Regions from separate parts of the Homo sapiens genome. Here region 2 is linked to region 1. Evidence: fine-mapped expression QTL. Tissue or cell type: whole blood. Region 1 holds a variant in brackets; the other region holds the start of a gene. All regions are shown on one strand. Distances are from middle to middle.

Evidence for each region. PIP is the estimated chance that this variant, and not a neighbour inherited with it, causes the effect. A credible set is the group of variants that fine-mapping cannot tell apart.
Region 2: SNHG26 starts here. The variant in region 1 is the best candidate, but not a certain one, in a credible set for the expression of SNHG26 in whole blood (INTERVAL, PIP 0.50).

The regions. Positions count from the first base shown.
Region 1 is chr7:22,939,748-22,943,747 of GRCh38, reverse strand. HYCC1 (hyccin PI4KA lipid kinase complex subunit 1) reads left to right here. Exons shown (of 11, transcript NM_032581.4): 11 at 1-4,000. Among named protein-coding and RNA genes, the nearest start is that of HYCC1, 72 kb to the left of the region's middle. The variant C/T (reference allele first, on the strand shown) is at 1,912.
Region 2 is chr7:22,851,687-22,856,197 of GRCh38, reverse strand. SNHG26 (small nucleolar RNA host gene 26) reads right to left here and starts at 1,958. Exons shown (of 5, transcript NR_146320.1): 1 at 1,918-1,958. RefSeq lists enhancers at 954-1,183, 975-1,586 and a silencer at 1,684-2,143.

The sequences.
Region 1 (4,000 bases):
TATCACTGTGAATTTACAGATGTCTTTTTGTCATTCTTTAACAATGAATTTCCCCTGTGCATAGTTATTAATAGTATTGGTATTATTAAAAACTAATTTGGCATTTTAAGATTGGCATTTTAAGCAAGTTGAGGTGCTTAGGAAACATTGTAGAATAAGTTTGGGGAAATGTTAGCTGACAGAGCTGAGAGATCAGATTTTCATGTTCTATCACTGTAATGGAACCTCATTTAGACCTCTCTAGACCTTTGCTAGCTGTGTGGTCTGAGGACCAGTAAGTAGGATTGGCATTATCTGGTATCTTGTTAAAAATGCAGAATTTCATGCCACTCTAGGTCTACTAAATCAGAATTTGCATTCTTAACAAGGTTCCCAAGTGATTTTTATGAGAAGAAAGTATCAGAGTGCAAACAAATTACTCGTCTAATATGTAGAATTCCCAGTGGTCTCACAGCCCTAGATCAAATGTGTCAGACACTAGATCATTATAATCTTCATTGGTTTTGACAGCTAATTAATTAGTTTAATAATATTGACATATGGCTTCTTAAGTATTTGAATTCTAGATTGCTAATGATCCTTATTTTTGCAGTAAAAAAGTAACACTTTATATTTTTCTTGTTAACTATAAATGGAATCAGAGCTGTAAATGCCTGAAATTTTAAGTGTGAAAAGGGGTGCCACCCTTTTATATACTGCACAACAAATTTGCATTTGTATATTCTTTTTAAAAAATCTCTGAAGACTTGCTCAGTGAAATGGTTCTGATTTTTTGCTTCAAATGATTTGCACTAATTGATTTTCTGGAGAGCGGAGTTACGTTAACAACAAAATTCTTTTATAGTTCCTTTGATACTATTTCAAATAAGGATTACACATTGAAAGTTTTTATAGAAATTATGAAAATTGGATAATCTTAACTATGGTAACCATTACTATTATCCATACTACTTTCTCCCCACTGAACTTTCAAATTTGAAAATTGGGGTAGCTTTTGTAGGTCACTTTCTTATAAAGATGCTGATGGTCACAGATCTCCTAAGTATCCAGAATAATATTTTTATCATGAGAAGGATTCCACACAAAATTGGGGTCTTGCACCCCATATTTCAGAGGATCTGAACAGAAATTGTGGCTTCATTGCACATTTTAAATCTCTATAGATTCTTGAAATCACCCAACCTCTCACATTTGAAAACCCAACGGCCTGGAGTATTCTGGTGGCACTGGAGCCAGCACTAGCTTTTTGGAATCCAAGTGGGGAGAGAAACAAAAATAGACTTTTCAAGGGACTGTCCCAGACTACCCAGGGCAAATGTCTTCCCTTCCCTTCCTGAAGCCACAGGAAAGCACCCTGGAGTCCTTTGTATACCACTATGGAAATTTTTAAGGCAAGCTCTCAAGACTTGAAGAGTTGGAATTCTCGGCATTTAAATGATGCCTGAAGTTTGTTTTGAAAAAGCAATATTTCATTGCTCTTTTCAATTGTGAAGCAACTGCTCAGCAAATATTACTCATTTTTTTAAAAAGTTGAATTAAAGGGAAATATATTTTTAAAACCAAAATAGATCAAAATGATCCCAGTTTTAAGGGATTTTGCCTATTTTGGAAGAATAAAACTAAAATGTTAAAACTGTTGAATTACAGAGAACAGATGTACTCTGAGACATAATTTTAAACAAATATTTAAAATAAGGCAGGTTAACATTTGCGTTTAGGCACAATAAATCTGTATTAAAGGGAAGCACATCAAGGAAATATATACATGTTGAATAATGTAACTGAAAAATATTTTTTAAAAACCACTTAAAAAGAAAAATAATTTGATGGGTACTTTAAGCATTGTAGATAGAAATTAATGTATAATAGTGTCCTCCCAGTCTTTGTATGAAAAATTAAAACTCTCTAGTC[C/T]TTTAATGAGCATGAATTTATACTTCTACATTTGTTGCTTAGTAAAATTATACTCAGTACTTTGAGTTATTCAGATTTATGTTTAATATTGTTAAATTCTTCATCAGAGAGCATAAATATATTGTCTTCTATACTTTGTAACTTGTGCATATCTAAAGAAACTAACAACGAACATTTTGGGAGATGTTTTTGTGTTTTTTTATAGTAGAGTTTTAGAGTACATTTGTCTTAATAGGAAGTTTTTACCATAAACCCAAGATTTTATTTCACGTATTGTTGCTTTCTCTTATATGGAACTTATTGTGTACCTCTTACCTTTATTTCTAATCATTTAGTGATACTAATCTTTTCATAGTAAATATATTTGTTTCTAATTGTATTCCTAGAGTTTACATTCCTAAAGAATAAACGACGACTTTGGCTATTTTTGTGTGTTCCCTACCTTCTTAAGGCTATGGAAATAAACTGGAGTTTAGTTTTTTGAATTTTTGTATATTTGTGTAAATGTTCTCCATATGTAGTACTTTATACAACAAGTGTTGCCTCTTGTTTTATTGAAATAAAAACTGAAAAAAATATTTTTTCCAGATCAGTTTACTCATTTAAAAAATTATTATAAAAATTTGCAGAAGTTTTGATATGAAGGAAGAGAATAAAGGAGGAAGACTTAGGTAAGTTGAGCCATTGAGAGCTTTTGGGGGTAAGTGATAAGACAATGACCTCATTCCTGGCTTTGTGCTTTACATGTCATAGGGCTGAGGAGTATGACAGGTCCACTCGTATTCATCCAAAGATGAAGATGAGCTCTATGGGCCATGCACCAGTGGCGGATTATTTGTCATATCAGAAGCACAGGCAAATTTAGGTAACATCACTTTGTCCTTCTAACTTTAGAATCTTTATTGCCATGTGTGGTGAGTAGTAGTCCCAACTACTCAGGAGGTTCACTCGAGCCCAGGAATTTGAGACCAGCCTGGGCAATATAACGAGATCTTATCTCTTAAAAAAAAAAAAAAAGCAAAAGAAGAAGAAAGAGTCTATATCTCTTGAGTACAGAGATTATATGCCCCTAGTACCTAGATAGGACTTTGTGCGTGGTAGGTATCTAGACATTTATGAGACAATAAATGAGTTAGGTTGATGTTAGCTTTGGAAAAGAATCAAGGATAAGTCTTCAGTGTTTTCTTTAACAGTACAATTTTAGAATTTTGTTTGTTGGCTTTAGGAAATCTCAGTGGCATTACATGAATTGCATTATAGCATGTACTTAGAAAAAAGAACTTATGGCTGGGTGCGGTGGCTCACACCTGTAATCCCAGCCTTTTGGGAGGCCGAGGTGGGTGGATCACCTGAAGTCAGGAGTTCAAGACCAGCCTGACCAACATGGCGAAACCCCATCTCTACTAAAAATACAAAAATTAGCCAGGCATAGTGGCGGGCACCTGTAGTCCCAGCTACTCAGGAGGCTGAGGCAGGAGAATCACTTGAATCTGGGAGGCGGAGGCTGCAGTGAGCCGAGATCATGCCACTGTACTCCAGCCTGGGCAACAGAGTGAGACTCTATCTCAAAAAAAAAAAAAAAAAAAAAAAAAAAAAAAAACAGAACCTATTAACCTATTAGACACTTGAAAAAATTCCTGGCTTGTAGTTGATTATATGTTTGGTTAATTCCATTTCATCTAAGGAACTAAGTAATTTAGGAAATGTGTTCTTAACTACTCTTAGAAGGGTACTTGTAGAGAACCAGAGTGGTGATTTTGTAAGCAGTATTTTGTCCTATACAATATGCACTCTTCCAGTAACTCCAGTAGTCCACATAGCTGACTCACCTCCTACAACCCGACTTTGTTAATATCAAGATAACTGTTTTATAATTGTAGAGAAAGATTTTTTACAACCAGTTGTAGTTATTATTTTCTTTGCATTATGTTATTGTGATAGTAGTGGTAGCTAATATGTGTAATTAAAATGATCATCTTATCCTCAAAATCATCCTATAAAGTGCATAGAATCCCCATTTTACAGAAGAGGAAACTGAAGCTCTCAATAGGGTAGAGGACTTGGCTAAGGTCACCTAGCTGCTGAGTGG
Region 2 (4,511 bases), 88 kb after region 1:
AAGCACTATTAAACTCGCTTACCCTGAGGCTGAGTTCAGGGGGCTGGGAAGTTTCTAGTTCTGGGCACTTGCTCAGTTTTCACAATCCTTAGACGCTAGCTCACACTGCTTCCTTGACATGGTGTCTCTCACAGTTTAAACTGAATAGTTAAAAAACAATTTGGCAGGCCGGGTGCGCTGACTCACGCCTGTAATCCCAGCACTTTGGGAGGCTGAGGCTGGCGAATCACCAGCTCAGGAGTTCAAGACCAGCCTGGCCAACAAGGTGACACCCCGTCTCTACTAAAAAATACAAACAGTTGGGCATGGTGGCGGGCACCTGTAATCCCAGCTACTCAGGAGGCTGAGGCAGGAGAATTTCTTGAACCCGGGAGGCAGAGGTTGCAGTGAGCCGAGATTGCGCCGTTGCACCACAGCCTGGGTGACAGAGCGAGTCTCCGACTCAAAAAAATAAATAAAATAAAATAAAAATAAAATGGGCTCAATAAGAATCTCTAACACCTAAAGCAATGGTAAAACAAAGCCTTACCACCGCTATCTTCCTGTGCTGTATATAGGGCTATTCGCCAGAGCTGGAGGTATTCCAGGGAGGGAAAATTGTCCATGCTCTGGGTCTATCTATAACGCTGGATAAAAGATGCCTAGAACCTAGGCTGCAAATGTACAAGCTTTCCTCATTAAAGAATGGTAAAATGGGTCCCATTTGGTTTCATCAAAAAGGCAGCAAATCTTTCACAACTGAGGAAAACAGGTGAACCACGAGCTTCACATTCCAACAGAACTGTGGTACCTATGCTAGCCACAAAGATTATTTGTTGACTCAAATGTAAATTTAGATCTTTATCAATTTTACTAAATTCGCAAAGTATCCCTTTATATAGCATTTTGTACCAGTAATGAACAATTAGTATGCTCAGCGATGCTCAGGAGAGCCGCTCCAAAAACTTACATTATTCCCCAGACAAACGTTCTCTAGGGGCAGCCTTGCGTATTTCTACACCTTAGTAGACCTAAGTTAGGCGTTCAACACCTTGTCCTGGTCCAAGCCAGAAAGAACCCAGTAGTTCAGACTTTTCCCAGGTCAGAAAACCACGAAGGGCCTCCTCACACCCTGATTAAACGTTGGAAGCGGGCCCTGTGCTGTAATAACGCTCTGGCCACTCCCAAAAAAGCGAATCTTCGGGAGGAAAGCAGGCTCCCTTATTAGGGCTCACAGCACTCCGCTCAACTTACTGTAGGCGTCGGCTCCAGCAAGACTCGTCCCTCCAAGCCTTTAAATTATCTGACTGCGGGCCAGTAGCAAATGAACGGCACTGGTGGCGGTGGGGGATGGCTGCGCGAGTGAAATGACCTCCGTGTGTTTGCTAACCCCGCTATTATACTGCCCCGCTTAGAAACTTAAAGCGCTTCAGACATCAGATCTCACTCGCTTCCCAAATAGGCTTCCGTCCGCGCGGTCACAGCCCCTGGGCAGGCAGGAGCCCCGAGTGCACCAAGAACCCAGAGACCGTCCGGGGCTCGGCGCCTCCGCCTGCGGTTGGAATTTGATCCTCAAAATGCAATCATTTAATTGAAAAAGGACTAAAAGCTGCCTGTAGGCCGAATGCGTGGACGGCAGGGACTCAGGCACGGGAGGTGACGGGCGCCTGGCGGCTTCTGCTGAGTGGGGGTGGGATCCTCGAGGAAAGGGGGCGGCCCCTTCAAGCGCACAAGGACACGGGCCGTCCTAACCCGGGACGAAGGGCCCAAGCGCCACGAGGACGCCCCCACCCCCGAGGGGCCCTAACGGAGGCTTCCCCGCGGCGCCGAGCCGAGGCCTCGGCGTGGGGGCAGCGAGAGGCGCGCCTAGGAAGCGCACGGGGTAGCCCCGGAGCCACGTGGTCGGCTCCTGCGTCCAGAAGGTCCGAGCCCACTTACCCAGTCACGCGCCGCGGCCGAAAAGGGAGGGCACTGCGGAGATCAAGTTTAAAAGGGGCCTGGGCGGGGCGGCACCAACCAAAAAGTTGCCGGAAGGCCCCTCCGGGTCCAGCACCCGCCCCGCCCGCGGGGCCCGGAGGCCCTCGCGCGCCCCCTGTCGGCGGCCCGGGCCTTCCCCGCCTTGGGCCCCCCCCCCCACCCCACACGGCCCCGGCTCCCACTTGGCCCCGGCTCCCACTTTGCCCCGGCCTCCGAGTCTGGGGAGTCTGCCCCAAACTCTCGCTGGCTGTGATGTCTCTTTACCTCGTTGAAGGTCAGAGGAAGCTCCTGCCACTCAAATAATGTTAGGTGTCTCTGGTACCCACTCCCCTCCCTTGCCTGGTGTTTCTTAAAGTCTTCAGCCACGCCCCTGGGTGCTTCTTTCAAGACTCGTCTAATTACGTAGCAGAAGACTGGCTCCCGTTAAAGGATGTGAACATTAGCGGAGGTCGGGGGTGCAAACTCATCGAAGAGGGGTTGAAGCACGGGGAGGACTCCTGGTGCCTGGAGTGCTGCATGCTTAGAATGATGGCCACGGCCCGCAAATATCTTGCCCCCAAAGCACGTCTGTGTCATTGGACTGTGAGGAGGAAGGGGAGAAGGTATTCTGACTGCAGTAAAATAAGCAGGTCTGTTGGCTGGATGCCTAAGCAGCACTACATATAGAACATGAGTGTTAAGGACTGAATTTGTCCCCACTCCCAAAGACATTGAAGACCTAACCTCCAGCACCTGTGAATGCGACCTAACTTGGAAAAACTGCGTCTTTACAGATGTGGTCAAGACGAGATCATTGGGGTGGACCCTCCTAATTCAACATGACTGATGTCCTTATCACACGGTGTCAAAATGCCACTTGAAGACAGAGACACACGAAAATGTGGCGGGACAGGGGCAGATCAGAGTGATGCAGCTGTAAGCCCAGGAATGCGGTGGATTGCCGGCCACCACCGGAGAAAGGCTAGGAAGAGGCAAGGAAGGACCCTCCCCTGCAGATTTCAGAGGGAGCTTGGTGTTTGGTTCTGCTGACACTTTGATTTTGGACTTCTAGTCACAAGAAATGTGAGACAAAACATTTCTGTTAAGTCACCGAGTGCTTTGTTAAGGCATCCCTAGGGAATTAATACAAGGACTGTGGGGACTTTCCCTCTGCCGTTCTGTGTAAAATCTGGCCATAAAGACATTATTTGACTTCCCTTGTTTGACTGTAGGTCATAAGACCCCCATTCCAGAGGGAGTCCTGTCCCATACCCAGAAGGAAAGAGTGCATGCTCAGAGAGGCCAAGAAGAATCCAGACAGACAGGCCTTGCTGGGTTTTCTCCCTCTATTAGTCTTAGATCATACACTTTTTGTCCGATCACATTTCTACGTCACTGCCCATACTTTGTTGAACCTAGGCATAAAAATGGATAATTTCCCCTGTATCTTTGGGTCTTCATTTGAAGGATCCCGGGTATACACATTAAATACATTTATATGCTTTTTCTCCAATTAATCTGCCTTTTGCAAGTTGATTTTTTAGTGAACCTTAAGAGGGCAAAGGGAAAACTTTCCATGTTGGCCCCTACAGATTGCTCAGTGCAGCAAATACTTATTGAGTGCCTATTCTATGCCAGGTGCTGTGATTGGTGTTGGAGGGTGTGAAGTTCAATGAGAAACTGCCCCTGCACTAAAGTGAGGAATATAAAATGAGATTCACCCACTGATAGAAGCCCATGAAGAGTGCCAAGGGCACAGCATAAAGCCACAAAGCCCAGCCTGCTAAGGCTACAGGAAAGGCTTCCAGAAGGAAGAGGTACCTATTAGTACAATGAGTGTAGCATGACCAGCAGGAAACTCATATGCTGCATGAAATTTAGGAGAGGAAAGAAGCAAAGAGGCCAAGAGAGTTACAGAAAAATCATAGGATAATAGAGTGCAGGGGACTTTAATAGGTCATCTAGGATTATTCTCTGGTGGGTGGAGCTGGTCTTAGGGTGTTGTCATGCAGAGTTGCCATGATGGTGCAATGTAGGCTCCATGAGAACTCTGTTTCCTTCTCTACTGAATCCCCCGAATTCAGTGTAAACGCCTAGAATATATTTAGATAAGGGGAAAAACTCCTTATCTAAATATCCTTATCAGAGGAAGAGATTATTCCCCCAAAGCAGTTCAATATTCATACCATAAAACTCTTCAAGGCTGATAATGGGGCAGTAGTGGGGTTTTATCCCAGGCGGTAGCTTCCTTGGGTCACCTTGAGTGTGAATTTATTCCTGTATTCCCAGTACCTGGCCTAGGGCTTTGCACATTGTAAATGCTTGATAAAACCTACTGAATTTCCTTTTCTTGCTGTCCATTTGACTTGTCTTTCACACATGTGGTGAACTACAGATATTCCCTGACTTACAATGGTTTGATTTATGTTTTTTTTTTTTTTTTTTACTTTGTGATGGTGCAAAAGCAATACGTAGCTCAGTAGAAAGTGTGCTTCAAGTATCCGTACAACCATTCTGTTTTTCACTTTCGGTACAGTGTTCAATAAATTACATGAGATATTCAACACTTTATTCTA